Linked DNA regions of Homo sapiens: all the other regions are linked to region 3. The links come from fine-mapping of genetic effects on gene expression. A gene starts in region 3. Each other region holds a variant in brackets. All regions are shown on one strand. Distances are from middle to middle.

Region 1 (6,661 bases), 26 kb after region 3:
GGTGAGCAGTGGCCTGTCATTCTACTTAAAGCAGAGTCTAAGTTTGTTGGTGGCAAGGGAATTTAGCATTTCAAAAGGTAGTTTGGAAATACGTGTATACAGAGTGTCAAATGAATGCCTTTTGATGCCGCATTTGCACTTCTAGAAATTTATGTGAAGAAAATAATTAAGAATATACTCAGCTATGGTACTATAATAATGTTCAATAAACTGCTGTTTGAAATAATGCAAAGTTGGAAACAATGTAAATGTCTAACAATAGAAGATTTGGTTAAATAAGTGATGATCTATACAAGTGTGTAAAAACATTTGAAATGATGTTACATGAATGTAACTGCTGATGTGAAAAGTGTTTACAATATGCTTTTAAATGACGTATTTATTTACAGACAAGGGTTTCCCTACATTTCCCAGGCTGAAGTGCAGAGGTGCAATCACAGCTCACTGCAGCCTCGACTTCCCAGTCTCAGGTGAGCGTCCCCCTCAGCCTCCTGAGTAACTGGGACTACAAGTGTGTGCCACCACGCTCTGCTAATTTATTGTATTATTTTGTAGAGATGGGGTTTCTTCATGTTGCCCAAGCTGGTCTGGAACTTTTGGGCTCAAGAGGTCCACCCACCGTGGCCTCCCAAATTGTTGGGATTACAGATGTGAACCACCATGCCTGGGCACCATATGCTTTTTTTCTTCCAAAATCATTGTTGAATTAAAAAAAACCCTTTATTTTGAAATAAACTTATAAAAACATTGCAAAAACAGTAAAGATTTCTTTTCCTTAACCATTTTAAACGAAGTTGCCAACATGATGTCCCGATGGCCCTGAATACTTGTGTACTGTGGTTAGGTGTAGGTCATTCTCCTACCTAATCAACATACAACTATAAATATCAAGAAATTAACATTGATATCTGCATTAGGGTTCTCCAGCCTGGAAAAAACAAGGAAGGATTCTCCCCTAGAGCCTCCAGAGGGAGCTCAGCCCTGCTGACACACTGATTTTGGACTTCTGGACTGTAGAACTGTAGAGAAAACATTTCTGTTATTTTAAACCATGAAGCTTGTGATAATTTGTTACGGTAGCCTCAATAAACAAATATAATGTCCTTTCCTTGCTCTAGCCCTAGTATTAGCTATTTCTCAAGGAGCCCTGGTTCCTTGGTGTAGAATGTGTAATATACATGTACATCCATGAATTCACACTGATCTCTCTAGTTTCTACCTACAATCACAACTTTCACACCTGTCTTCTTTTTTCCCATATTAATACCTTCCTTCTCTAACAGTGAGAAACCACCTGGTTCTCAATATATTATTAGTTGAATCCCCCATATGTATGTAGATTAGCTCCCATTGTTACTGGTGGAGGGTGTCCAGGTTCTTGGTGTCTTTAACAAAACACACAAACAAAGCAAGGAAAGAATGAAGCAACAAAAACAGATTTATTGAAAACAAAACTACACTCCGCAGGGTAAAAGTGGGCTGAGCAAGCGGCTTAAGAGCCTGGTTACAGAATTTTCTGGGGTTTAAATACCCTCTAGAGATTTTCCATTGGTTACGTGGTGTACACCCAATGTAAATGAAGTAGTGGCCCTTGATCAGTCTGATTGGTTGTAGGGGGACCAATCAGAGGCTGAAGTGAAGTCACAAAGTTACACGCTATGCAAATGTCCGATTGGTTGCAGAAAGTGACCGACCAGAGGCTGAAGTACAGTTACAAAGTTATACTTCTATGCAAATGAAGGTTTGGCCTGTGACCAGCCCGATTGGTTGTGGGAGGGGACCAATCAGAGATACTTTGAAATTTTCATCTGCCACAGAGAAAAGGGGTGGTTTGCAAACGGAGTAGCCTCCGGTCCTTTTGTTACTTGGGCATGGAAAGTTAGGGTTTTCCTTTTGGTTTAGTTATAGGAAGTCAGTGTGAATCAGCCGTAGGTTCCCTGCCCCCAGACCCTATTCTCCTGCCTCACCATCACCACCAGTGCCCACCCCCTCACAGATGCTCTTCTCATCCTGCTTAGTCTTTAAATTCCTGTTTGGGAGCCGCCACGCAGCAGGCTGCCCCTCATGGTGGTGTCCTCCTCACTCAGTTGGATTATTTTTTTAATTTTTCTAATTTTTTAGTTAGTTTCTTTCTTTTTTTTTTTGAGGCAGGGTCTCACCCTGTTGCCCAGGCTGTAGTACAGTGGCACCATCTCAGATCTCAGCTCACTGCAACCTCTGCCTTCCAGGCTCAAGTGATCCTCCTACTTCACCCTCCGAAGTGGTTGGGGCTACGGGTGTGTGCCACCACGCCTGGATAATTTTTTTAATTTTTAATTTTTTGTAGAGGCAGAGGTCTCACTATATTGCCCAAGCTTATCTCGAACTCCTGGGCTAAAGCAATTCTCCCACTTCTGCCTCCCAGGGTGCTGGAATTATAGACATGAGCCACCGTGCCTGGCCCCACTTGAATTCTGACACTTTGCACGAGGCTGCCAATGTCACTCTCCACTCCTCTTCTACTCCTCCCCCTGCTGTCTCTGATGTACCCCATGCTGGGCTGCCACAGCCTGCCCTCCCTACCCTACCCTCACACTCAGCCACAGGGTGCCCCCCTCACTTGGTTCCACTTAATGATTTAATGATCTTGGACTCAGTTTTTCAGGAAGAAAAAGAAGAAGGAAAAGAGGAAAATAAAGGCAGAAAGGAAGACACCATCTACATTTTTAAGTGAAAAAAAAAGTCATACTCACATATTTGGGGGAAAATCTGTACAAGCAAAGAGAAAAATCTGGACATGCCTATGCTAAGATTATCCACAGTGACTGTCGCTGGGAGACTAGGTCTTGGGTTTACTTTCTTTCCTCTTTTTGCTGGACTTAATTTTCTTTTCTTCTCTTTGTCGTCCTCCCCCACCTTCTCCTTAAGAGGGGTGTTCAATGAGCACAATTTTTTTTTTTTTTTTTAGAGTCTCTCTCTGTTGCCCAGGCTGGAGTGCAGTGGTGCAATCTTGGCTAACTGCAACCTCCACGTCCCTGGTTGAAGGGATCCTCCTGCCCCAGCCTCCCGAGTAGCTGGGATTACAGGCATGCGTCACCACGCCCGGCTAATTTTTGTGTCACAGTCTGTTTTTGTAATAACTAAAATAACTAAAAACTTTATTTTTGAATATGAAAAACAGGGTCTATAATTAAACTCATTTTTTTTTCTGTCCTGTGTAGAGAGTAACTCAAATAGTATGGTTTTTAGGATTACTTGAGTTTTTCTTTTAACTTGAAAAATGGTTTTTGGAAGCTGGCCCACCCAGAAAATAATGCTGCTTACTTATTGTGTTAATTGCTTGAATCTGAGGGTGTATCTTTTTCTATCACTAACTGATATCTCTGACATTTTCCCAGCTGGTTTATTGATTCACTAAAAGATAAATCATTCATCTGTGCTGGGCAATGTGTAGAGTAAGAGAGAAAAATATAGAAAACAGGATTCTTGTTCTTTTTTATGCTCTCAAATTTAATACAATTTATTAACATTTTCACTTGTGTCAAGTAGAGCTGACTTGAATCTAGGCAAATACCAACCCAACTAAGAGCAAATACCAACCCAACTATAGCTCTTTACATTTCTACTCTGCAGATATTGGTGGGATGTATGTGGTTGATTGTAAGCAACCTGTTTTAGAAAGTTACATA[C/T]ATGCAAAAGCTTTGTGATATGTTATACTAATATAGCTCTGTAATATAGTTCCTGTTGCTCCAAATCTTTGTTTTCTTGAGTTACTTATGGTAGAATCAATTTCACTTTACATGTGGCTGTTGAAAACAGACTCCATTTAGAACGATTTATTCCATGAAGTCATGCTCTTTGCTCTTTGGAGCTTTCACCAGGGAAGTTTTATTTCTTTGTATTAGTGATTTTGGCCCGACGAAGCGTTTCTCCACTCTGACTGGTTTCTGAGTAAGCCACACTTGCCTGGGCCTTTTAGATTCCAGCTGTAGAAATTTTGAGCCTATTGAAAAATCGTTTCCTATTAACTCTGTAAAGGGAACCAAATGTGTAACACCCTTTAGCATTAGGTTTATATTTTTCTAGTACTTTTGTTTGGGTTCTTTTTTATCCTTGTGTCCAGTAACATTATTTGTAATGGTCCGTTTTCAGGGAGATTAATTACATTCTCGGTATATCTGCTTTCCTATTTAAAAATTTTCTTTCTGGAACAGGATTGGAAAATAATAGAAAACAGCTCACGCAGCTGCCTTAGTTACCAAGACAACAAAATGGAGAAATAACTGGCTGGTTGGCTTTTTTCTCTTTTTCTGAACTACCTTCCAAATACAGTCATCTCCTTCGTAAAAGCAACGTATCTGTTTGAAATAACTAGTTTGAGATTACTAGTTGATAGTTACTGTATTACTTTTGTCACAACAGTATTAAGTGCCCTGATTATAGTCTGAGGACAAAACAGTTTGTTTTTCTCCAAGTTTTCCTTTAAATTATTTAAAAAATTATATAGATAATACATTTATACATGTTCAGTATAAGAAAGTAAAACTTTACAGAGGTATAAAGAGTAAAAAGTGTAAGTCCTGCTTTCCAGGTCACTTATCTTGATAGATATGAACATATTGTAGTGAATATGATTTCAATAAATTGACTCTGAGTGAACTTCAGAGCAGTAATGTGTTCAGATCAGTAAGAACCATGTGTTAAATACAGATGTTAAAAGTTAAACATTTAAGAACCCCTGGCAGGGCATTGTGGCTCATGCCTGTTATCCCAGCACTTTGGGAGGCCAAGGCGGGTAGATCACATGAGGTCAGGAGTTTGAGACGAGCCTGGACAACATGGTGAAACCCTGTCTCTACTAAAAATAAAAACAATTAGCTAGGTGTGGTGGTGGGCTCCTGTAATCCCAGCTCCTTAGGAGGCTGAGGCAGGAGAATCTCTTGAACCTGGGAGGCGGAGGTTGCAGTGAGCCGAGATTGCACCATCGCACTCCAGCCTGGGCGACAAGAGCGAAACTCCATCTCATAATAATCATAATAAATACATAAGTAAATAACCCCCCCTTAACATTTATATAAGGAATATATGTTTCTTGTATAAAATTCAGAAAAAGACAAGCAAGAAAGTACAAATTACCCGTAATTGCAATACCCAGAAGTCACCCCCATTCAAATTTAGTTTCTAATTCTTTCAAGAGGATTAGTTTTTATTTTAAAGTCATACCAGATCATTAAATAAAAAATAAATATGTATTGCCATTCATAATAACAAAGCAAAAATAATAGCTGCTCTTATTAATACTTCCTATGTGTCAGCCCTGTAGTAAAAGCTTACATGCCTGTAAACACAACCATTTTGGGGTAACATTTGGCATATTAATTTGTGATCCATTCTTTCCTTTTGAATATAGGCATTTTTTTTTTTTTGAGACAGAGTTTCACTCTTGTTGCCCAGGCTGGAGTGCAATGGCGTGATCTCGGCTCACAGCAACCTCCGCTTCCTGGGTTCAAGCCATTCTCCTGCCTCAGCCTCCCAAGGAGCTGGGATTACAGGCATGTGCCACCACGCCTGGCTAATTTTGTATTTTTAGTAGAGATGGGGTTTCTCCATGTTGGTCAGGCTGGTCTCGAACTCCGGACCTCAGGCGATCCACCCGCCTCGGCCTCCGAAAGTGCTGGGATTACAGGCATGAGCCACCGCGCCCAGTCTATATAGGTATTTTGTAAAAGTATATAGTTATTGTTGTACTGTATAGACAATTAGAAGTCTAATTTTTGTTTAAAATTTTTCTGTGATTTATATATTATTGGAAATAATATATTTTTATATTACATTATCAGATAGCTTTTTAAGCATGCTTTTATTGGTTGTCTAATATTTCACTGAATGCATGTATGATTCATATATAATCATTTCCATGTTGTTGGACATTTATTATTTCTACCTTTTCATGTGGAGCTCTTTTTATATTATTATTCCTTAGAATAAATTACTTAGAATAAATTACTTCTAAAATCGATTTATCAGAAATGAATTTATATTATTATTATTATTATACGTTTTTAATATATTATTCCTTAGAATAAATTACTTCTTAAAATGGATTTATCAGAAATGAAATGATTGGGTCAAGGCTATGAATTGTTTTGGAGCTCTTGAATGTATTGCTAAATTGCCTTACCAAAGGGATACTGATTGATCCTGTCGTCATCATTACATAACAGCATTAGCGACTGTGTTTCCTATTCTTCTAATTTGATAGAAGCAAAATGACAACATGTATTTCGTTAGTTTCTCTTTGATTATGACTGAGTTTAGTTATTTATCCATGTTTACTAGTACTATTTCCTGTTTTAATGAATTTTTTTCTCTGTTATGATGCTGCATTTTATCCTAAAAATGTATGTCTTTTTTAAATCCCAAAAGTAATACACACTTATTTTAAAATTAAAACAATACAAAATGCAGATAAAAAACAGAACTTTCTCTCTTTTACTGCATCTCCTTAATCCAGGAGTGGAGGGGTATGTATATCTACATCTCCAGACCTTTCTCTAAGATAAGGAATTAAACCCTATCCGTTCTTTTTGATAGCGATGGAGGGGCTACGAGTTCGATATGGGTTCCTTTTCAAGCAAAGATAGTCACCTTTGTCTTATGTCCTTTATGTGTATATTTTCCA
Region 2 (4,000 bases), 26 kb before region 3:
AATTCCTTGAATCATGTCTTTCACGACTTTCAGAAGATCAACTGCCACAGCCCCAGTTTTAATCCCCATTCCTTCTCTTCGCTGCAAAATAGTAAAAATCATTATTTCTATCCAGAATGGTTCATTCTTTTTCTATCATGTATTCATTCTAAAGAAAATCAGAATGTGTTATGCTTAAACAAGAAAAAAGGATACTTGTAACGTAATTGAAAAAATTCTCATATTGGAAATTTCCTTGTTGGCAAATTTTATTGACAGCTTTCAGGAAAAGATTCTCGCCCCGTGGCCACTCTTGCTGAAGCAACACAATCACATGCCCCAATGCCATGTCGTCTCTGTTGTCTGTGAAAGCTCTAAGCTGCAAGACAAAGATTTATACAAGACAGAAGGAAAAGGAAGTCACAGGGTAATCTGAAATACAGCAAACATCACTTTCCAAAAATATGCTGTATATGCAAATGTGTGATAAACGTCATTAGAGTAAGAAGGAAACAAAGGCACAACGAAATGGCTGGTAAACATCACAGCTGCCTTCTAAGGAGGGTGGATTCTAACCAAAGAAGCCTCAGGCTCCCTCTGCACAGCTGCTGGCAGTGTGTAGATGGCAGTTGGACATGGGTGGGCCTGAAGCTTTTGCATATGAGAATCAGGGGCAGAGAACTCTGATTCATCCTGTGTAATGGAGAAATAAATCTGAAGATTTCTTTGAAAGGGAGCAGATGGGAGTAGGTGGGCAAGAGGCCATCCAGGAGAGAACTGTTTGTAGAGAACATGGGATTGCAGAGAAGGAAAGGTGGTGAGCCACAAGGAAATAAGCAGAAGTGTGAACTAAAGAAATGGTCAAAACAGTTTTTGTTTCAAATGAGCGGTTATGCATAAAATCACACTTTAAATTGTTTTTGTTGCCCTAAAAAAGTGATATGGATGATGAGTTAAGTGGGAGTTACTGCACTGAAGTGGAGACCCAATGTTTTACTCTCTGGCCAACAAACCTTCCAGAAACAATGAAGCCTCCCTGCTCTAAGGCTCTGCTCTACCTGTAGCCAAGGGCCTTGGCGTTCTTTCAAGTCCCGGAACTTTCCCAACTGTTGGGCTGTTACTGGTGTTGATCTCAACACCTAACATGCTTAATCTAGCACATCTTTACAATGACAAACTCATCATCCCTCCATGAACCTAACCGCAATTTGTATTCCCTTTCTTTGTAGCTAATATATTTATATTGATAAAATATTTACCAAACACTACAACAGTCAAGGTTATTTGCATATCTGTCCCACTATTACACTTTTTGAGGACGGGGAGAACTTCCTACTTCTCTTTGCCTAGCGCAGTCATTATTTAATATAGATTTGTTAATTAGTAGCCCATGTGCTTTTCTAACTGTTTGGGCCTGCCCTCAAAAGTACTAAAATAACAATCCTTAGCAAGGTTCTCAAGTTCTCGAGTCATGAGAATAATATTTGAAATTACATTTTTTTTCAAGCTAATCAACTTTAAGCTTACCTTAAAACAGGCTAACATTAAATGGAGGCAGTATGGCATGATAGCCTTGCTGGTACAAGGCAGGAGCTTCAGATCCGAACCTAACAGAAGTCCACAATGTTAGGTTAATGTATGTTATTATCAAAGATAACAGCTTTGAAAGGCAACTGTTTAAGATGCTTTCATTAACAACAACAAAAAAGAGAATATGCAAC[A/C]GTCACACAATTTCAATTATATTTGAAACACAATTATACTTTGTGATGGTGAAATTGGCTTTTGATGGTCTCTAGATTTCATTTATCAATATTCTTTCCTAAACTTGCTTAAATACTTTTTATGAGAAAACATTTCAAATATACACAAAGTTATATAGAGAGAATATAACACTGGTGTGCTCACCACTCAGCTTCATGAAATGTTAATATCTTAATTTTAAACATTTCTAATATCAATAATCACAAAATCAGTTAAAGCCTATTGTGTATCCTTCTCTGATCCCATTCTCTTCCATCGCAGAGGTCGCCATAATTCTGAAGGCAGTGGTTGTCATTCCTATGACTGTTACACACGTAAACAACAATGGATTGTTCTGCATGCTTTCAGTCTACTATATAAATGGTGTCATTTTGTATGTATCCTTCTGCAAATTGCTTTTTTTACTCAACTTCATGTGGTTCAGATTTATCAACTGGTCAATATCAATACACATAGCTCTAGTTCATTCATTTTCAGTGTTATATAGTATTCTGTTGTCTGCATTCCTTTTACAGAGGATATTGACATTTCCAATTTTTCACTATTACAATGATAAATATACATTCTTACATATTCTTGTACATTTGTGGAAATAACTTTAAGCAATAGCTTTCAAAGCAAAATCCCAATCTTTCCTTTCTGGTCTGTGTTCTTTATGTCTGTTATCTTTCTCTACTCAGAGGCAAGATAGCAAGAAATAAATATTTTTCACATGGGATCCTGTACACACATACTTACATAATGTGATAGATCCAAAACAAAAGGTGCATGGAATAACAGTCTCTCTTCTTGTCTGAGATGTCGTCTTAAAATATTATTGAATTCTATCTCATTAAAAAAGAAAATTTCTGGTTGAAACTCATGACCCTGTAAATGAAAACTCACAGCTTGAAAAACACTCATCTAAGGTATACAACTAGGACGCGAGGTACATTTAATAATTAGGTAATGACATGTTCAACTTGGTCATGGGAAGTTGGTTTCCAGAATGGTTGCATGACTTTATACACCTTCCAGAAGCACGTGGCACTGTGTTCCTTCACATCCTCTTCAATTTTTGCATTCTGATGTGTGTGAAATGGTAGTTTATTGTTTTATTCTGAATTGCCCATATGACAAAAGGTTGAGAATCTTTCCAAATAGTTTTTGGCCATTTGGATTTCTGCTCCTGTGAATCTGTTCTTCCTGTCCTTTGCCTATTTTTCTATGGGGATTGGATAATTGCTTCCTATTGGTCTGAAGGAGCTCTTTCAAAACTCTAGATACTAAGTTTTTGTTGATTTTGTGTGATAGACAATTTTCTGGCAGCCTATGCCTTATCTTTTCACTTTGATTGTAACAGCCTTTGTTGGTATTTTAATTTTAATGTGATCAAATTTACTAATCTTTCTATTTTTAAATTTTCTTCTAAAAGTTTGGAAGTTTTGGAGTTTTTGCTGTCACATTTCAACCTTAAAATTTAAAGGATGTCTATGTAGTGTGAAGGAGGGGATCTCATTTTTTTATTGTCGTTTTTTACATTTGGATAATAAATTGTTCTAGTACCACTTATTGAATAAATTCATTCTTCCCCCACTGAATTTTAATGTCATCTATTTCTCAGTTTTCTATGCTGTTCCACTGGTCAACCCCTGTGCCAATACTACCCTGTCTTAAATTACTAAAGCTTTAAAATAAGTCTTGAAGTCAGCTAGGTCAGTCCTATCCACCTAATCAGTTTCTGGAAGGTATATAAAGTCATGCAGCCACTCTGGAAACTAACTTAGCATTACCAAGTTGAACATGTCATTACCTAATTATATGCCTTGCCTCCTAGTTGTACACCTTAGATTAGTGTTTCTCAAGCTGTGAGTCTTCATCTACAGGGTCATGAGTTTCAACCAGAAACTTTCTGTTCTGCAGAAATACTTAATTTTTGAAGAAGTCTGGGCTAGATTTTTTTTTTTGACCATTTGTTATAGAAAACTTCAAACATATACAACGTAATCTGCTCCAGCACCATTGGTTGAAAAGTCTTTCCTTTCCTTATTGAATTACTTTGATGCCTTCATCGAAAATCATTTGATCAAATCTATGCAGGTCTATTTCTGGATTCTCCATTCTTATGTCGATATTTTGTCAACTCTGTCTTGATTATTATGCTTGTATATTAAGTCTTGTTATTATGTAGTATAAGTCACTTAATTGTGTCTTTTTAAAACCTGTTTTGACTATTCTAGATTATGTAATATTTCCACTTACATTTTAGAATCACTTTGTG
Region 3 (6,641 bases):
AATGCTGATTTCTCTCCACACCACCGGCTGGTCTGGGAAATTCACAAACCTATTTTTAAAATAAATACATTAAATTAAAATGTCAAAGTCTATACAGTATCCAAAAGAAAAAACGTTAGCATTTGGTGAAAAAGTTTCCTTTATTCCAAGTGAATGCTTAGACGTGCCAAAACAAACCAAAATAAAAATGTAAAAATAAGAATTACTTGATTTATAAAAATGAGAGTACTCACATAAGTCTTTAGTGGGTTTTATAGGTGAAAAGACAAGTAACCATAACATAGAAAGAGCTTCTAAAAGTCAACAAGAATAAAACAAACTATTTGAAAGAAAAAATAGGCAAAGGCAAATCACAGAATACACACAGCCAAAGAGAACAGTTGAAACAATACTGAATCTTATTAACAGTATGAGTAGTACAAATTTTTTTTTAAAATAGCAAGATACCATTTTCTCCTATCACAGTGACAAGAACTAAAAAGAGACTAATAATATCCAGTGTTGGGAAGGGTATGGGAAAACACACTCTTTATACACCATTGGTGGTAATGTAGACTGGGATCGCACATTTTGGAGAGTAATTTCATAGCGTATCAAATTTTCAAATGCGCATAAACTTTGACTATGAAAATGTCTTAGAATCTATTCCACAGAAAAACACCAAAATATGACTACAAAATTGTTGACACACTGAATATAATTTCAAATAATTTAAAACTATCTATTTAAATGTCTACCAAGAAGAGAGTGTCTACGAAATACTACACAGGCATGAAAAGGAATGAAGTGGATCTCTACATACTGATATGGGAAGGGGTCCATGAGAGTGAGTAAAGGAAACATGCTGCAGGGCAAAGGTAGTATGGTCTTCTCACTTTTGTAACCCCTTCCCCCCAAAACCTTATTTATGTATTATGCATACATGTATAGATATACTGCCTACAAAACTTAACTCTGGTTCAGTTTAGGATGCACTTTCACTTTTTGTTCTCTATAACAAGTAGTGTTTGAATTTTTGTAATGAGCACATATTATTTCTAGAATAAATTATGAAACAGAAGTTTTAACAAGGATAAAACATAAGAATAATAATTAAACTCTTCTGCAAAAGCCATGTCAGCAATTTATGGCAGGCCTGGACTCCTTACTAGGTTTGCTTTAGGTATCGAAGATATAGATGAACTTGAAGATCTTCCCCCAACTCCCACTTCTGCAGAGAGAAACAAAACCTCATGGAGAGATTCAGTGCAGTAAAAGTGATGTCAAGCGTCCCACTCACATGTCGTACAGCAGCCTCCCGGCGGTGGCGGTCCGCTCTGCATTCCGCTCGATGGTGTACATCTCATACTGCAACACACATCAGGCACCCTGGTCACTCACCCCTGCCCAGAAGGCTCCCAGCTCATCCAGCATCGCTCGTTGGCCCTCCTGCAGGAAGGGAGGGCCTGAGAGTGAAGCTCCGCCTGGTGACACAGCGCCACATACATGGCAGACTTGCCATTGGGCTTAGAGTGTGACCCTGGGGTTCACCTGCAATCTCAGGCTCCCAGGATTAAGTAGGATAATATTTCCAAAGTCGCAGGCCCTGAACAAACTGCTGCCATTATGATGAATGAAGGAGCGAATGGCCTTTTGCTAGTGGCGATCATGTGCTGTCTAGGCCAGATGGCACGCTGAGCCCCAGGGACCTAAGCACACCCGACCTCAAGCGGGATCGGCCGTCTCTCAAGTGCTGGGGAGAGGGCTCCTGGAAGGTGTAGGAGCAAGGCGGGTGAAAGGTGTAGGAGCAAGGTGTAGGATGGGAGGGGAGAGAGGAGGGGGTGGGAGGGGAGAAAGCAGGGGGCCGGGCAGGAGGCGGCAGCCCCCAGGCAGGCGCAGCTCTGGGCCAGGGCAGCCCGGGCGACGGGAGCGCGCACCTCCACGCAGAGCGGCCGCATGCACAGCCGGGACCTCACCTGGATGTTAAAGTCTGCCGGGTAGAGGCTGCGGGCCGTGATCAGCCACGCCTTGGCTGCCCACAGGTCTTGCGGCACCAACTCCCGGGCTCGCTGCACCAGGAACTCGCAGTCCCCCTGGGCAGACATGACCCGAGCGCTCTCCAGCCGCCAGCCCGAAGCGGCCGGAACGTCCGGCTCTGGACTCTCAGCCGCCACGGCAGCCACCGCCGCCGCCGCCGCCACCGCGGGGGAGGCTACTGCGCATGTCTGGAGGCGCACGGAGGCTGGCAGAGTGGATCGGGAAAGCTTTTCCGGGTTTTGCGAGCAGTCTCCTCCCCTTGGCTCCTCGTTACCGCCCGGTCCCCTCCTCTTCTGAGAAGCCAGAGCAGTTGAACCGCTTCCAGGTCACCTCGAAAATGCGGAGAAGTGGATTTTCATTCCTGCGGGCTGCAGCGTGACCTTGGTGAAGTCAGGGAGCATGCGCGGGAGCGGGCAGGCGCCAGGCCTCTTCGCCATTTCCATCCTCTCTGGGTATTGCTCAGTTTGTCGGGGGCGGGGGCGGAGGCGGGGGCGGGGAGACGGGCGGTCCCGGGGAATGGGCGGTCCCTGGGCGTCCCCCCGGCGTGGAAGGTTGAGAAGAAGTTTGAGAGGAACAGCAGAGGGTCGGGGAGGCGGCGGGAAGCACTCTCCACCCGGGCCGGCCTGAAACACCTTCCCCGGGGGCCGCTGCCTGCGACTCACTCCCCGGGCTTCGATTTACGCGAAAACTCCTGGGGCTGGTGGGGGTGATCGTGCAAAGCGTGAGCTCCGGGGTTCCTTCTCTTTCCGAAATCCGTCCACGTTTTATTATTTCACCTTTATGCACCGGTTTCTCCAACAAACGTTTATTGAGCAACGAAGTACTTGGAAAGCGCTTTGGTGGATGCCGTCCGTGGGAGCTGCAAAGATGACTAAAACCCTGACCCAGCAAGGGTTTTATATGTTTTAAATGTTCTGGACGTGAAACCCACAGAAAGATAACTACGCTATTATTATAATTATCTCCTCCAGCCACAATCAATGTCCTTTTCACCAAAACTCCAGATTTGTTTTCCATCTAAGAGATGAAAAACATCTAGGAGATTCTCCATCTAAGAGATTCTCTTGCCTCAGCCTCTCGAGTGGCTGGGATTACAGGCGTCCACCACGACGCGCTAGCCCGGCCAATTTTTGTATTTTTAGTAGAGACGGGGTTTCACCATGTTGGCCAGGCTGGTCTGGAACTCCCGACCCCAGGTGATCCGCCCTCCTTCGCCTCCCAAAAGTGCTGAAATTACAGGCATGAGCCACCGTGCTGGGCTTCGAAGCACTGTTTAATATCTCCTACTTATGCACAGAACAGCATAACTGTATGATTACTTTATGGGCCAGGATTACTCAGTGATACAGTTATTTTGGGTTTGTAGAATAGAAGATGGTAGAAAATTGGATTTAAACGGAGTAGGATAATTTTTATGTTATAAAGTGTACAGCATAAAAGCAGATTGCTAGCTTGAATTGTTAAAATTATTTCATTGATGTTAATATATGAAGTGTAAGAATTTTCAAATGGTAAAAATGACTGATTTGGTCATTAAACTTTCTGGTTTTGGTCTTTACCAAAAATAAAAAAACAACTCCACACTTGTTCCTGAGCCTAGTGTTCTGTGGAATAACAATTGTAAATTAAGATTTTAAATTTAGAGGCTAAATAAGGAAATTCTGTTTTTGTTTGTTTGTTTGTTTTTGAGACACAGTCTTGCTCTGAAATCCAGACTGCCAGTGAGTGCAGCAGCTCGATCATGGATCACTGCAGCCTTGACCTCCCAGGCTCAAGCCATCCTCCTGTCTCAGCCTGTGGAGTAGCTGGGACTACAGGTGTGTGCCACCACATCTGGCTAATTTTAAATTTTTTTGTAGAGACACAGTCTCCCTATGTTGCTCAGGCAGTTCTTGAACTCCTGGGCTCAAGTGATCCTCCTGCTTCAGCCTCCCAAAGTGCTCGGATTACAGGCATGAGCCATTGCGCCCAGCCTCTGTATGTATTTTAGATGCCAACCTTGAGAGGGCCTCTAGACTTTTTGCCAGAATACAACGTAAGGTTTGTGGTTATTTTCTAGTCAGCTTCTTGATTTTGAATGGTCCCCAGCTAAACATTTCTCCTACAGTGTTATGCTGGCATCTCAAAGTACAGAAGGGAGGTAACACACCAAGTGAGTTTACATCTTTTGGCCTCCTTGCCATGATCTTGACTCACTGGAGACTTGAGGCGCCTAGCTCATGTTCTTCTCCATGACAACTTTTTTTTTTTTTTTTTTAAAGACGAGTTTTGCTCTTATTGTCCAGGCTAGAGTGCAGTGGCACAATCTCAGCTCACTGCAACCTCTGCCTTCCGGTTTCGAGTGATTCTACTGCCTCAGCATCCCAAGTCGCTGAGATTACAGGCGCCAGCCACCATGCCCAGCTAATTTTTTTTTTGTATTTTCAGTAGAGACGGGGTTTCACCATGTTGATCACGCTGGTCTTGAACTGCTGACCTCGTGATCCACCCACCTCGGCCTTCCAAAGTGCTGGGATTACAGGTGTGAACCACCACGCCGGCCCTTGACAACTTCTAAGTCACATAAAATGCCCTGCATCCAGCACCCGGCTTCAATTTCCGTGAGCTCAGTTCAGTGATCTGAATTAAACTCTACATTGCTTTTCCCCTTCCACTTCAAAATCTTCAAACTCCAAGTTTCCTCACATAACCTCTTAACTTCCCTGCCCTCAACTCTCTCCTTGGTTCTTTTTAATAATTTCCTCCTTTCCCTTCTCCCTGATTTTACCTTCATGGGCCTCTATCCCCTTGACACCTACATTTTCCCCTAAGTGCATCTGCCACCCTTTGGGCTTATTCCTCTCCCACTCATGCTAAACCCTGTGCTCAGACATTCAATATGTTCATGTCTTTGCCTTCTTATCCTGCCACTGTATCCACTATTTTTTTTTTTTTTTTTGAGACAGAGTCTTGCTCTCTCGTCCAGGCTGGAGTGCTGTGGCGCAATCTCAGCTTACTGCAACCTCCTCATCCTCGGTTCAAGTCATTCTTGTGCCTCAGCCTACCGAGTAGCTGAGATTACAGGCACAAGCCACCACACACGGCTAATTATTGTGTTTTTAGTACAGACAAGTTTTCGCCATGTTGGCCAGGCTGGTCTCAAACTCCTGGCCTCAAGCCATCCACCCTCCTCAGCATCCCAAACTGCTGGCATTACGGGTATGACCCACCGCACCCGGCCCTTAAACTCCAAGTTTGAATACCACAGCCCTATTTATCTTTCAAGACTGTACATCTGGTCATATATGTGTTTTTGTTTTGTTTTGCGTTGTGTTGTTTTTAAACAGTGTCTTTCTCTGTCACTCAGGCTGGAGTGCAGTGGCACGATCATGGCTCACTGCAGCTTCAACTTCCAGGCCCAAGCAATCCTCCCAGCTTAGCCTCCCAAGTAGCTGGGACTACAGGCGTGTGCCACCACACTTGGCTAATTTTTTAATTTTTTGTAGCAATAGGGTCTGATAATATTGCCTAGGTTGGTCTTGAACTCCTAAGCTCAAGCAATCCTCCTGCATAGGCCTCCCAAAGTGATGGGATTACAGGTATGAGCCAGCACAATGGGCCCAGATAAGTATTCTTTTTTTTTTTTTTTTTTTTTTTTTTTTGAGAGGGAGTCTCGCTCTGTCACCCAGGCTGGAGTGCAGTGGCATGACCTCAGCTCACTGCAACCTCTGCCTCCCAGGCTCAAGTGATTCTTCTGGCTCAACCTCCCGAGTATCTGGGACTACAGCCTTGCGCCAACACACCGGGCTAATTTTTGAATTTTAGTAGAGACAGAGTTTCACCATGATGGACAGGCTGCTCTGGAACTGCTGACCTCAAGTGATGCGCTCACCTCAGCCTCCCGAAGTGCTGGGATTACAGGCATGAGCTAACACGCCTGGCCTGTATATGTATTCTTAAAAACCCTTTGATGGTTTATAATTGTGCTTCCATGGGGTTTGCAGCTAGCTCTCTGCCCCATCATTTGCTAGGAGCCTCCACCCAGAAATGCTTTCAGTTCTTCAATGTAGTATGTTCTTTGTCGTTTCCACACATTCATGTGTACTATTCGCTAATATCACCTCTGTCCTGCCTAGAACACTGCCCCCTGCTGGTCTCGTTGGGCTAATTGAATTTCAGATAACACTTCTCAGGGAAACCTATTCTGCCCCTACCTCCCCGTTCCCCCAGTCCTTACGCTGTTTCATAACTGATGGTTTACCAGACAGTAAGCTCCATCAGGACATGGACCTGACCTGTCTTTTATGCTGTGGCTTTCCCAGCCCCTAAAACATGCCTGACACTTATTGATAGTAGGCTAGCAATAAAATTTAGGTGAATTTTAAATGTCTTGGCCCTTCCCTACAAATGTACATAAAGCCTCTAATTTTATACAAATTTCATTCTGTCTAGTTTCAAGGGATAAAGAGTCCCTTTTGTTCAAGGCCAAAATCCTCACCTGTGCTTCTAATCCCATACCCTTGGCTTCCTTAGGGAATCTGTTATCAGTTATCCCCACTCTGTAGTTTCTGTCTATTTCTCCTGGTACCTTCCAGTAGAGTATGTGTTTGTGTTGGATTACTGCTGTTTCCCATTGATTATAGTAG
Region 4 (6,661 bases), 160 kb before region 3:
ATAGTCTAGCATATGACCTACCCTGGACAATGGTCCATGTGAACTCGAGAAAATTGTGTATTGTGTTGTTACTGGGTGAAGTGTACTATAGATATCTGTTAGATATACTTGGTTTATTCTTCACGGCTTCTGTTACCTTGTTGCTGTCTTGTCTAGTTTTTCCATACATTGTTCAAAATGCGATATTGAGATCTCTTACAATTATTGTTGAATTGTTTTCATTTCTGTCCATTTTTGCTTCATGTATTTGGTGCTTTGTTATTAGTTGCATATAAATTTATAATTATTATATTTTCGTGGCAGATTGACAATCTTATTAGAAAATGTTTCTCTTTGTCTCCAGTAACATTTTCTTTTGCTTTAAAGTCTATTTTGTCTGATATTAGAATAATACATCAGCTTTCTTGTGGTATTTGTTTGCATGATATGTGTTTTTCTATTATTTGCAATCTATTTGTATGCTTACTTGTCCATTTTAATTTTAGTTTAAATTTTGAAATCTTTTAAGGATTGGGTTGTTTAATATTGAGTTTTAAGGGTTCTTTAATAGTTTTGAATATAAGACCTTGATCAGATTTTTTTTTTTTTTTGCAAATATTTTACTCAGTCTGACTTGACCTTTTATCTTCTTAACACTATCTTTGGAAGAGCAAATGTTTTAAATTTTGATTAAGTCTTTGTTATCAGTATTTTCTTTTATGGTTTGTGCCTTTGATATCTCAAGAAGGCTATGATTAACCCAATGTCACAAAGATTTTCTTCTGTTTTCTTTTAGAGGTTTTATAGTTTTAGGTTTTATATTTAGGCTCAGCTCTAGTAATTTTGTATATATGGTGCAAGCTATAAATAGAGGTGGTTGGGTTTTGTTGTTGTTTTTGTTTGTTTTTACATAGAGATATCCAGTTATTCTAGCACCATTTGTTGAAAAGGCTATCAATTGTTCATTACATCCCATGGGCAACTTTGTAGATCATTTTTATTTATTTCATCAGATTGTTTACATAGATGATCATGTATGGAAACAAAGACAGTTATACCTCTTCCTTTCCAATATGGATGCCTTTTATTTTTTTATCTTGTCTTGTTGCACCGAATGGAACCTCCAGTATAGTATTGAATAGGTCTGGTAAGGCAACTATCTTAGCTTTTTTCCTGATCTTAGGAAAATAATTTAATCTTTTACCATTAAATATAGTTTTATATGTAGGTTTTTTGTGGATGGCCTTCATCAGGTTGAGGACATATCCTTCTATTCCTAATTTTCTGAGAGTTTTTTTTATCATGAATAAATATCAAATTTTGACAAATCCATCTTTATCTTCATTTTTTATGGTTGCAAAATAATCATAACTGACATATATGTGTTGTTCACTAATTTGCTATTACAAGCAAAATTGTAATGACTGAGACTATGGTAATATCCTTTTGCAGATGTGTATCTTCAAGGTAAATTCCCAAGAGCAGAACCATTAGAAAAGGATATGTATTTATAATTTTGAAAGGTATTACCAATTGTCTTCTACAAGGATTGCACCAATATACATTACTATCTGCAATGTAAGACTTATTTTCCTTTAGAGTTGCAAACAAGGTGTATTTTTAAACTTTGAGATTTTCTGAATCTAAATTGGTAAAAAGTGGCATTTTCATGTATTATTAAATTCTATCTCTTATTATGCATGACAATGACTACCTTTCATATGTTTAAGGACCACTTTATGTTTAGATTTGTGTTCCATCTTTTGCTCTTTTTTCCTTTGTGTGTGTGTGTGTGTGTGTGTGTGTGATTTTATTGATTTTTAGAAACTCACAATTACTATTTTTTGAGACAGAGTTTTTGCTCCTGTTGCGTAGGCTGGAGTGCAATGGCGTGATCTTGACTCACCACAACCTCCGCCTCCTGGGTTCAAGGGATTCTCTTCCCTCAGCCTCCCGAGTAGCTAGGATTACAGGCATTCACCACCACGCCCAGCTAATTTTGTATTTTTAGTAGAGATGGGGTTTCTTCACATTGGTCAGGCTGGTCTCGAACTCTCGACTTCAGGTGATCTGCCCGCCTCGGCCTCCCAAAGTGCTGGGATTACAGGCGTGAGCTACCGCGTTCAGCCAAAACTTACTTTTTACTTTTTATATATCAATTTTGGGGGGATCAATTTGTTATCTTTTGACTTTGCTTATATTTCAGCTTATCTTAAATGGGTTACATTTTCTTCCATTAATTTTTCTGCTGAGCTTTTAGGCATGTGACTTAGGAGAAAATGTGAGAAACACTATAGTTACGTCAATTATTTTGACAAATCACTTTTTGGAAAGATATTCACACGTGGTGAGCCTTCTAAAAATGGTGTGCTGATTTCTGTTACTTTTTTTCATAGAAATTATACAATATAACTTGAGCATTTCTTCTTTTACTGGTGTGAATAAAATGTACCACCCTCACTTCCTCACACCCTACATCCTACCCTTTAATGAACCAGTAAACATCAAGGAGCAGCGTGATGCTGTTTGTTGTACATGAAGTTAAAATGTGCCCTTGGACTTGAGGTCACCTTGAAATAATGAGTGACCTGGTCTCAGAAGGCTCCATACCTCTGAAGGGACACTTATCATTGTCATCTTAGTCAAATCACATGTGGCGGCAGAGGAATCTTACGGCCTCATTTAACAACCCAGGCTCACCTCTGACCTGGGGACATCTAAAAGCCTAATTTTCTAGCCCTTACATCGTTATCAAAATGCTGAGTTCACAGTGTTACTCAGGCACATCAACGAGCTCTTTATTTAACTAGCACTGTCATTGCCCTCAATGTGTGACACAAACTCACATGATTTTGGCCCATACAATGGAAAAATAAGGTTGGTTTTTACTTTAAAATCAATATTAAGTTATTAAAATGATAGCATATCAAGACATGAGTATCTTCCT[A/T]CCTTCTTTCTAACTTCTGTTTTCTGTTGCTTTTTTTAAAAAAACCTGACTCAAAATCACCCGCTCTTTCCTAATGATCTATTTTGGTCAATATCTCAGTTCCTTTTTGTCTCCTGGTTGTTTTCTCCTTCTTAGGACATATAGGAAAATCTCTTTCTAGAACAAATTGTGTTCCTTTTCGTTACATCCTTGAGAAACTCAGTTTAATGAATCAAAGAAGGTATTTTTAGAGCATCCTACATGTTCTGTTCCCAGGAAGAATGAGTGTACTGGTCAATTTTGATTACACCCTCTGCTTGTAGAAACCTACAGAAGTGGAGACATGGAGAGAAAAATGAGAAGTTTCATTCATTTATGCTGCTTGTTGGAGTTTAAAAGTACTTATTCATGACAGTCTTTATTCATTTATGTATGCATTTGTTCAACAAATTATTAAATACACTTATTTTTATACTTTGAATTTTTAAAAGAAAAGTAGATGGATAATATAATCGTTATTGCCAAAGGAACTGAGAAGGCAAGACAAACAGTGATGCAAATCAATTTCTGGGCAACAGAATGCTGGGGGAAATGTAGGGCCAAAATAATATTGCAACAGCATTTTTCTAGCTTCTTCGTCCCCCTTCTTTATATCCAGGTATCTTCAGCATCTTTAAATCATTCATAACAAACTTGGGTGAGAAACAGAGCAGTGAGTAAAGTCAGGGTTAGCATGTACAGTATAGTGCCTGTGCATGAATTACCAAAATTTGCCCACTCTGGGCAGATGAATTACAAAAAGACAAGTGTATGAAGACCTTTGTCACTCCTAGCTTTTTTTTTTTTTTTTTTTTTTTTTTTTTTTTGAGACGGAGTTTCGCTCTGTCGCCCAGGCTGGAGTGCAGTGGCGCGATCTCGACTCACTGCAAGCTCCGCCTCCCGGGTTCACGCCATTCTCCTGCCTCAGCCTCCCGTGTAGCTGGGACTACAGGCGCGCGCCACCATGCCCGGCTAATTTTTGTATTTTTAGTAGAGACGGGGTTTCACCGTGTTAGCCAGGATGGTCTCGATCTCCTGACCTCGTGATCCGCCCGTCTCGGCCTCCCAAAGTGCTGGGATTACAGGCGTGAGCCACCGCGCCCGGCCCACTCCTAGCTTTTCTATATACTCCCATAAGTCTGCTCAAATATGCCACAGGCTGCATGACACTAGCACCTTGCAAAATTGCCCGCACATCGTAGGTACTTGATAAAAATTTGCATTGACCTTACATTTTCCTTCCTTTTTCCATCCGGCTGTTACTAATATCACTTGTCACAACCCACCACAAACGAGTTGCCGAAGCACAGGGGGTGTCAAGGTTCCCTGACCTGTGGAGTCCGCACTGAAGTCAGTGCAGCTCACAAAAGCCACCATAGACCCCAGCACATTAGAAGCTTGCTGGGAAAATGTTGGACCACCATGCCCCACACCATGGATGCCAAATCTAGCAATTCACAGATTATCATAGTTGCTTCTCCCTAAACCTCAGGCAACTCCCATAGGCTGGGCTGCCAGACAATAGAAACAGACACATGGTGGAAGTCAAAGTTGCCTCTCCTCTCTGTCTTGGGCCTCCATCCTTGAGTCACTTTTATGTGTTTTGCTTCTCTTTTCTCTTGGGAAAAATTTTTTCTGCCAATGTATTTCTGGTGCACCATCTCCAAGTGCCCCAGATATGTTCAAACAGGCTTAAAACTCAAAGGGGGGAAAAATCAACAACTCCAACTTTGAAGTCACACATTGGTTTAAAAGCCAACTCACCCACTTACTAGCTTTGATTTCTAAATTAATTCATTTCCCTGCATCTCGTTATATTCATCAATAAAGAGAAGATAAAAATACCTATTTCAGGAGGCTATTGTGAGAATGAAACAAATGTTAACCAAGCACTTCACACAGTGCCTGGCACATAGTTGATGCAGAAAAACTGGTAGTAATTATTTTTAGTAACACAACATCGGAGCAAGTACATGCAACACTTGTGCTGACAGGTAGATCGTAGTGGTAACATAGCAATGGAAGAAAAAAAGATTTCAGAAGGGAGCTCAGAAGAGTGAAAGTAGTCATTAAAGGTACTTAGAAAATAGGGTGGTCATTATAGGCAGAGAGGGACATTTGAGCAAAAATATAGAGACTACAGAAAAAAACTTTGTTTAGGGAAAGAGTAAGAGGCCAGGTTGTCCGGCGAAGAGCTTTATGTTAAATGCATGAAGAATAACTGGGATTAGTTGGAGAAGTCTGGGGAGTACAGTGATTTATTGTCTTTACCGACCTACTCTCCTTAACTTGCAACTTGGACCATTTGATCACCATTAAGGGACTTTAGGAATCCAAATTTTGGCCTAGCACAGCATGACTCAGGAAATGGTGTTGGGATTGCATCCTCAGGCTATCCCATTGTGGTGATGTGAGCTTGGACTTTGCACATAACCTCTCCCCATTTGTAATGGGGCAATGGTGCCAACCTCATAGAATTATTATGAGGATTAGAAAAGATGTATTTGAGGGCCTGGATCACATAGTCTTTGGATCTAAGGTGCAGATCTTGTGCCAATTCTTAGCGTCTCATCCATGATGTGATTTCTGCTGCCACACCAGTGCCATCTGGAAACATAAAGATTAAGGGAAATATCATCATCCTCAGCTTATGCTGCCAAATTTTATAAATCTTATTATTGATTCTTATCTCCTTTAGAGCTTTCTCCAGTTGTGTGCTAAGAAGGAATTTCATTTTGATTATGAAACCTTTGTGTTTCACATTTGGCTGAGGAGGCATTGTCTTTGACTTAGCAATCTCTTGATTAAAAGACCCTGGAGTTGTTGGAGCCCTGTCAGCGGAATGGGTGGAGTCGGAGAAGTGCCTTCATTCCAGATACCTTCTCTTAATCTCATGTCAGCAGATTTCCATTGTAGGTCCAGAGCCTGTTACAAGAGGATGAAGGATCTGAGCCCTGATAAAGGAATGAGGTCCCTATGCTGGAACTCTAGCACAGGCTTTCTGAGTGAAGTCTGTTCAAAGCCCACATTTCCTGAAAAATCAGTCATCATGAGGAACTGATCTGTGAGGACCAGAGAACAGAGTTGCCAATGTAATTCGATGGAGAGAGGATATTTTTTTCAACAAATTGCTGGAATAATTTGACTATGTAAAAAAGAAATTATTGCCACAACTACCACAACAAAAACAAAAAACACCTCTAACCACAGATAGTACCATATACAAAAATTAGCTAGAAATGGGCTAAATGTAAAACAGGGTGAATAACAACAGTATGCGTACAAACACACACATGCATATGCAAACAATAATTTATAGTTTTTTTGTTGTTAGGCAGGATGAAAAATACAGAGAGTTGAAGTACTGGGTAGAGGAATGGGATGCTACGATCTACTCTAGAAAGTTCACCTGATTCATTATTAATAGACTAATGAGAAGCAAGAGCAGTAGCAGAGAAACCAGGAGAGACTATTGAAATAATCCAGTGAAACCTGATGGCATAACATTAAAAATGGTAAAATGCAGTCAGATTCTGGATATATTTTTAAGTGAAGCTGATAGAATTTTTTTTTTTTTTTTTTTTTGAGACAGGGTCTTTCTCTGTCACCCAGGCTAGAGTGCTTTTTCGCTAATAAAAGCTCGCTGCAGCCTCAACCTCCTGGGCTCAAGCTATGCTCAAACCTCAGTCTCCTGAAAATACAAGTATGCATCACTAT
Region 5 (6,566 bases), 38 kb before region 3:
TGTGTCATAACCTTTGTGGAGATAAAGATCACCCACATGAGAACAACATTTATTAATCGAGAGCTCGCTCTCTATTGTAAGAGGCAGCCACCACAACAGCTTGTGCTTGGCAGAGACTCAAAGGCAGGCAGAGGAGTAGGAAAGCTTTATGGTAGGAAAAGAGGAGGGTGCATCCTGCTGGGAGCGGGCTGATCTGGGAATGGCTGGAAGCAGACTGACAAGAAGAGGTGCGTTCCACATGATCCATGAGGGTCAGTGTATTTGGCTTCCCCTGTTGACCCTAACTTGGAAGTGGGTGTCAAAAATGAGGGAGGGTCTGGATTCAGTCCTGAGCATTTGGAGCAGATCACTGTGGAGATGTGGATAGGCTCTCCAGGCTGGTGGCTGCTCACGGCCTTCCTGTGCTCACCAGTGAATTGAGACAATTCATTGGCCTGGAAACCCTCTTTATCATCTCTGGTCAACTGAATACCTTTCCTAGACAGAGAAACTTTATTCAGTATTTCTATAACAACTCCTATTGGTAATCATAGTAATAATTACAGTAACGATAAATAGCAATGACAATAATTACTTTTATATACTTATTAATATTTATAAAATTCTTATAATCTATACTTTAATTTACATTTCAGAATTTATATGACATACAGGGCGGGGCACAGTGGCTCACACCTGTATTCCTAGCCCTTTAGGAGGCTGAGGCGGGCAGATCACTTGAGGTCAGGAGTTTGATACCAGCCTGGCCAACATGGCAAAATCCCGCCTCCACTAAAAATACCAACATTAGCTGGGTGTGGTAGCATGTGCCTGTGGTCCCAGCTACTTGAGAGGCTGAGACAGGGGAATCACTTGAACCCAGGAGGCAGAGGTTGTAGTGAGCCGAGACTATGCCACTGAACTCCAGCTTGGGTGACAGAGCAAGACTCTCCCAAAAACAAAAACAAAATTTATATAACATATTTATGTATTATATAATTTATAGATAAATATTTTGTATTTTATATATAGTTTATGTATAATAAAGTTATATATTTATAGTACTTATATAATTATATATGTATTAATTACAATTGTTTATAAATAACAAAAATATTCTCATTACTATAAACCTCGTGAGTCACTCTCACACCTGACTCTGCATCCTGCACCTTCCAGCTGAGGACTCAGTCTCAGTTTTTAACCCTCTAGCTGCCCTTTCGCACCAACCCCGGCCCATTCCCACCCCCATTTCACCAGGCTCAGGTCTGGCCATCTGGGTGACCTTCATGGATTACATAAAAGCAGCCACCAGCTTGTTCCTGGCAAGGGATGCGAAAGTCTGTGTCCACAGAAGCCATCACAGGTGGTGAGGATACCCGGCCTTGGCTCCACTCACGTTGGGTCACATTTCTTGGCCCAAGGCTGGCGGAGAGTGCCCAGCGTGTGCCTGGCCTCCACCTTGGAGCTCCCTGGTTGGAATGGGTTGGAGGGGGCCGACCCCCACAGTCCAGGAGGCCTTGACTTTTTTTTTTTTCCAGAGGGCCCTGGGCCAGGGCCAGCTATGGGTGGGGGACAGTGGTGCCCTGCAAGATTGGACATTCTGAGCCCTGAACACTTCCTCCGTTGCCTCCCATTGGTGGAACCCTTTTGTGGACAGAGAGCTGTACTCAGCGTGTTTATTGCTCTAGCTACGACAACGAATAATCATAACAGCGATAGTTACAATCATGATGAGTGACAGTGACAAAAATAACTTCAGGCCTGGCATAGTGGCCCACACCTATAATCCTAGCACTTTAAGAGGTAGAGGTGGCCAGTTCTCTTGAATCCAGGAGTTGGAGACCAGCCTGGGCAACATGGTGAAACCCTGTCTCTATAAAACATTTTAAAATCAGTCGGGCATAATGGCATGTGCCAGTGGTCCCAGCTACTCAGAAGCTGAGGCAGGAGGATCGCTTAAGCCCAGGAGGCTGCCATGAGCCATGGTCGCGGCACTGCACTCCAGGGTGACTGTTACTCTGGGTGACAGAGCAAGACCCTGTCTCTAAAAAAATAAAAATAACTGTTCACGTTTATTTGTTTTTCACATGGATTTATCATTTATAACCCCTACAATTTATATTTAATGTTATAGAAGACTGTATTACAATTTCTGTGATTTCATATTTACAGATAAATATTTCTAATAACAATAACATTTTTCCCATAAACCTTGGGCCCCACCCCACCTGAGGAATGATTCTCTGTTTTACCCCCGCTGCCAGTCTGGGTCCCCGTGGGCCCCTCTCTAGGTTGGCCCTAGCCTCTCGTCTAAGGTGGCAGCCGGACAACTGGTCTCGACCCAGCAGCTCGAGGCCTTGAGCTAGTCCACTGTCTCAATGGGCTGTCCCTTGGCTACAGTCTAATGGGGACCCCTGGCCTAAGGCAGGCAGGGGCCTATCGATGTGAGTCTTTGGAGGTTGATGGACTGCAGAAGAGAGACCGAGCCTGGCAGACTGCTGGTCAACCCTGAGGATGCAGGGGGCTACCCATCCATCTCTGCTATCCCCACCGCTCCCCAACTTTGTCCCAGCCCAGGGTGCATCCTGGCAGGGTGGCGAGGAGGCGGGGCATTGAGTCGGGTTGCCAGGAGGGTACCTGATCACTGCCGCCCCACAGTGTGGCTCCGGGTCCGAAGTCCTAGGGATCGAGAGGGATGGATGCATAGATGCTTGGAGCCTCCATATGGGTGGACAAACCCTGGTGTCCAGGACTGACTTTCAATGGATTGCAGCGAGGGAGCTGTTCTGCTGCTTAGGAAACCCAGAGGCAGGTCTTACTAGCATCATTTTCCCCAGGAACCTGCATTTGGTGACGAGTGAGGGGCAGGTGTCTCTTTCTGGCAGTTCCCCTTTTCCCAGGAGGGACTCTACATCCAGATGGACCTAAGCGTAGGAGGAGGATGCTGTGCACGCAGGGTGCACCCCGCTGCCAGGTGAGGGGAATGTCTGGGACGAGATATCCAAGGTCAGTCAAGCCTCCTATGCACCGCTGTATCTTCTGCCTGCCTTAAGGTCATCCCGATGGTAGCTTTGCCTCATTCGTTACTCAGACAAGCAGACACCAAAAGCCTGAGCCTGCAGTTCCTTTGTTAGGGAGCAGGATTGCCATGGCAACAGTACATCTCCTGTAGGAGTCTAAATGTTACAGTGGTCCAAACCCAGCTCAAATGTTCCCTGTCACAGGGACTGGGAGCAAGAGTTGATTCCCTGAATGGATTTCAAAAAGCCAGCTCTTGGGTTCTTGAGAAAACAGCTCTGGGGGGTCACTTTGCATCTCAAAGGGCAAAGGATGTGTAATTGCAACCTTTTTAAAGTAACTATTCTAAGCGAGAGTCCAGGGGCCTATCTGCCTATCACCTGGTTTGGTCTGGAATAAATTTTGGTAGCATGGAGCTTTCTCAGGCAGGCATTTTAAGCGGGACTGGGGTCATGGCCTTAAGCTGCTGGTAGCCAAGCTAGAGTTTGGTCAGGTCTCTTAGTGCAGCGATTTGGATGGAGCCATTATGTGCTGAGAGGTCTGCAGTTTTCTCCCAGCTCCTTCTTTTTCTGCAAATTCAGTCTGAGTTTCCATTTTATTCTGTGGCCCTTTCCCTGCAGCCTCTTCACAGAGAAGTGGCACCACTGAATTTTAAAAAAGATGGTTAATCCTCTTTTAGCTAGTACCTACATTTTGGGGTATTAGAAAGTCTTGTTGTGATGTGCACTGCTCCTGAAACACTGAGCTGAGGAAGCTGTTCGTGATGGTTAATATTAGGTGTCAACTTGATTGCATTGAAGGATGCCTAGATAGCTGGTATTGTTTCTGGGTGTGTCTGTGAGGCTTTTGCCAGAGGAGATTAACATTTGAGTCAATGGATCGGGAGAGAAAGACCCACCCTCAAGCTGGGTAGACACCAGCGAGGGTAGAACAAAGTAGGCGGAAGGTGGGATAAGCTGACTTGCTGAGTCTTCTGGCTTTCATCTTTCTCCCGTGCTGGATGCTTCCTGCCTTTGGACATCAGACTCCAGGTTCTTTGGCCTTTGGACTCTTGGACTTACACCAGTGGTTGGTCATGGGCTCTCGGGCCTTTGGCCACAGACTGAAGGATGCACTGTTGGCCTCCCTGCTTTTGAGGCTTTTGGACTTGGACTGAGCCACTGTGGGCTTCCTTCTTCCTTGGCTCGCAGACGGCCTGCTGTGGAGCTTCACCTTCTGATCATGTCAGCTAATTCTCCTTAACAAACTCCCTTTCATATATACATCTATCCAATAGTTCGGTCCCTCTGAAGAACCCTAATAGTGTTAGAAAACCTAAAGGTGAGAGTGTTTAATTTGGGAGCTTTTAGGTGGCAGCACATCCCATCACTAAAAAAAGGATAGCTTATATATTTGTAATAAACTCATATTACACTAATAAACACTGCAAAACAAGCTAGTTGATATTTTTGAGATCAGATGTCTCTTATTTAAACCATCTTATTGATTTTAATATAGCTATAAAAAGGATCTTTATTTAGAAAAGATTTCTAAGACCTTTTATGCAGAGTAACTGCAAAACTTCTTAGCTCTTTCATTCTTAAATACTCCCTTGAAACAAATTTTATTGATGTTTGTCTTCTGTATAATTTCATGAAGAGCAAAAGGAAAATAAAATTAGCCTAATTAAAAAAAAAAATTAGCCTAATAGCTAATGTTGGCCAGCACTAACTACACTCAAGGCCCTCTCCCAAGCATTTCACGTGGAGCAACATTTCATCCTCCCAATAACCAGCAAGGGGAGGACCACTCAGCTCCGTTTTCAGACAAAGAGCTTGAGGCACACAGAAGTTACCTTGTCCACGGTCACATAGCA[A/G]GTAAGGGCAGGGCAAAGCCAGGATGCAAAGCCACACAAGGCCACCTGGCTCCAAAGCCCCTGGGTAGAAACCACTGGGCCACCCTGGCACAGCAGCAGGGACTTCCTGGAGCCAGACAGCAATGGGGAGGCTGCTCTGCCACACCTTGCCTCTCACCTCCACTTCCTGTCCTGGGCTTTTCAGCAGCCCTGAGCACCTCTCCTTCAGGGGACCATCAGTGGGAGAGGTCAGGCTCAAATTCATTTTTACATAAATGTTTTTGGTGTTAAAACTTCCCGAATGAGGCCAGGTATGGTGGCTCATGCCTGTTATACCAACACTTTGGGAGGCTGAGGTGGGATTGCTGGAGGCCAGATGTTTGAGACCCACCTGAGTAACATAGTGAGACCCTGTCTCTACATAAAATTAAAAAAAAATAGCTGAGCATGGTGGTGTATACTTGTAGTCCCAGCTACTTGGGAGGTTGGAGGCAGGAGGATTGCTTGAGGCCAGGAGTTTGAGGCTGCAGTGAGTTATGATCGTGCCACTGCACTCTAACCTGGGTGTAGAGTGAGACCTTGTTTCTAAAAAAGAGATCACCTGAATGAAAACGTCTAATATTATGTTGATATGCAATACCGACCAAAGCCTAACTATGGAAAATAAAATCTTAAGGTCATGGAAGACATATGTCTTTTAAGTAAGTATCTATATTAGTAAAATTCATTACTCAATTCAATTATGCTGGATTTTCCCCCTTGCTATATGCTTAGAAAAGAAGAAAAATGCACCCCTGTTCAAAAACTCATAAGAATTAAATTTTTAAAAACTTCAAATTTTAGGATGATTTTTATTTACAAAACAGATTGGTACTTTTGTTTTACAAAAATTACAAAAAATGACTCTTAAAAATAGAAATAGCTTCTCAGACTCTTGGGAACTACTTTTAAGCAACCAAGGAGTTAGAACTCAGATGGTTTTCTTCTTTGTAACAGCAACAATGACCACGGCTCTGTGCCATGGCAATCACTGCTGAGTGTCTTCTCCTACAATTACACAGGCCCGAGCTGTGTCTGGTGGAAAGGTCTCCACTCAGGTCAGAGTCTGAAGGAGCAAGATCTTCTCATTAATGCAGAACCTGTGCAGAACCACCATCAGATTCTCTCCACAGCGGGAGACCTGGCGCTCCATGGCCAGGCGAAAGTCCTCCTTCACGCCTTTGGTGATGCCTCGAGTTACAGTGTGGTGCCTGAGGTCAGCAATAGGGAAACAGACAAAGACCAGGGGTTAGCACCAGCATCGCTGATCGCTGCTACTTGGGTAGGAATAAAGCCTGCCCCATATCTAAGTATAATTTCAGATATTTTAAAAAGAACACAAGAATAGCTGCAACCAACCAAACATTCCAGCCCATTTCTCTTCAGAAAGACTTAAAACTAGACAGACATCTTTCTCACTCTATAAAAGGTTACTTCAAACATTTAATTGTTCAGTAAAATGCCACCTGCTTTGCCTTTGAATCAATGAAGCTCTGGTGTTATGCATCCCTACTGCTGACTGGTACACAATTCAGTTACTTAGGGCCAAATGGGTCCAGTCCACACTGGCTACAAAGAGCTCATGTCCAGCCCGGCCAGCAGACCCTCCAGAGGCAGCAGCAAGGAGGGAGGAGACCTGAATGAGCCAATCACCCAAGTGAGCTCCCACCATGGCCCCCGCAGCTGGTGCTCC

Alleles and levels. Alleles are on the strand shown, and positions count from the first base shown. SD is a standard deviation of normalised expression in the study named. Not every link is listed here.
With allele C in place of T in region 1, the expression in prefrontal cortex of the gene that starts at base 2,206 in region 3 is higher (moderate effect, 0.44 SD a copy in BrainSeq).
For the expression in monocytes of the gene that starts at base 2,206 in region 3, allele A in region 4 goes with a lower level than allele T (large effect, 0.93 SD a copy in Quach 2016).
For the expression in cerebral cortex of the gene that starts at base 2,206 in region 3, A is the high allele of the variant in region 5 and G is the other (moderate effect, 0.43 SD a copy in GTEx).

The links. PIP is the estimated chance that this variant, and not a neighbour inherited with it, causes the effect. A credible set is the group of variants that fine-mapping cannot tell apart.
Region 1: its variant is the best candidate, but not a certain one, in a credible set for the expression of INTS10 in prefrontal cortex (BrainSeq, PIP 0.89).
Region 2: its variant is the best candidate, but not a certain one, in a credible set for the expression of INTS10 in whole blood (INTERVAL, PIP 0.77).
Region 4: its variant is the best candidate, but not a certain one, in a credible set for the expression of INTS10 in monocytes (Quach 2016, PIP 0.70).
Region 5: its variant is the best candidate, but not a certain one, in a credible set for the expression of INTS10 in cerebral cortex (GTEx, PIP 0.77).

Annotation. Positions count from the first base shown.
Region 1 is chr8:19,786,494-19,793,154 of GRCh38, reverse strand. No RefSeq gene overlaps it. Among named protein-coding and RNA genes, the nearest start is that of INTS10, 28 kb to the left of the region's middle. RefSeq lists a silencer at 4,090-4,290. The variant C/T (reference allele first, on the strand shown) is at 3,669.
Region 2 is chr8:19,840,434-19,844,433 of GRCh38, reverse strand. INTS10 (integrator complex subunit 10) reads right to left here. Exons shown (of 17, transcript NM_018142.4): 14 at 1,507-1,586; 15 at 196-358. Among named protein-coding and RNA genes, the nearest start is that of INTS10, 25 kb to the right of the region's middle. RefSeq lists an enhancer at 406-505. The variant A/C (reference allele first, on the strand shown) is at 1,701.
Region 3 is chr8:19,812,981-19,819,621 of GRCh38, reverse strand. INTS10 (integrator complex subunit 10) reads right to left here and starts at 2,206. Exons shown (of 17, transcript NM_018142.4): 1 at 1,956-2,206; 2 at 1,280-1,347; 3 at 1-49. The coding sequence starts at 2,084. RefSeq lists enhancers at 1,266-1,355, 1,566-1,655, 2,156-2,215, 2,256-2,335, 6,514-6,641 and silencers at 1,836-1,965, 2,486-2,625.
Region 4 is chr8:19,971,947-19,978,607 of GRCh38, reverse strand. No RefSeq gene overlaps it. Among named protein-coding and RNA genes, the nearest start is that of LPL, 36 kb to the right of the region's middle. RefSeq lists a silencer at 2,563-2,763. The variant A/T (reference allele first, on the strand shown) is at 2,927.
Region 5 is chr8:19,851,167-19,857,732 of GRCh38, reverse strand. INTS10 (integrator complex subunit 10) reads right to left here. Exons shown (of 17, transcript NM_018142.4): 17 at 5,666-6,084. The coding sequence ends at 5,928. It overlaps LOC124901901 (a long non-coding RNA gene), which reads right to left and starts at 3,836. Exons shown (of 2, transcript XR_007060843.1): 1 at 2,620-3,836; 2 at 29-477. RefSeq lists an enhancer at 920-1,419. The variant A/G (reference allele first, on the strand shown) is at 4,856.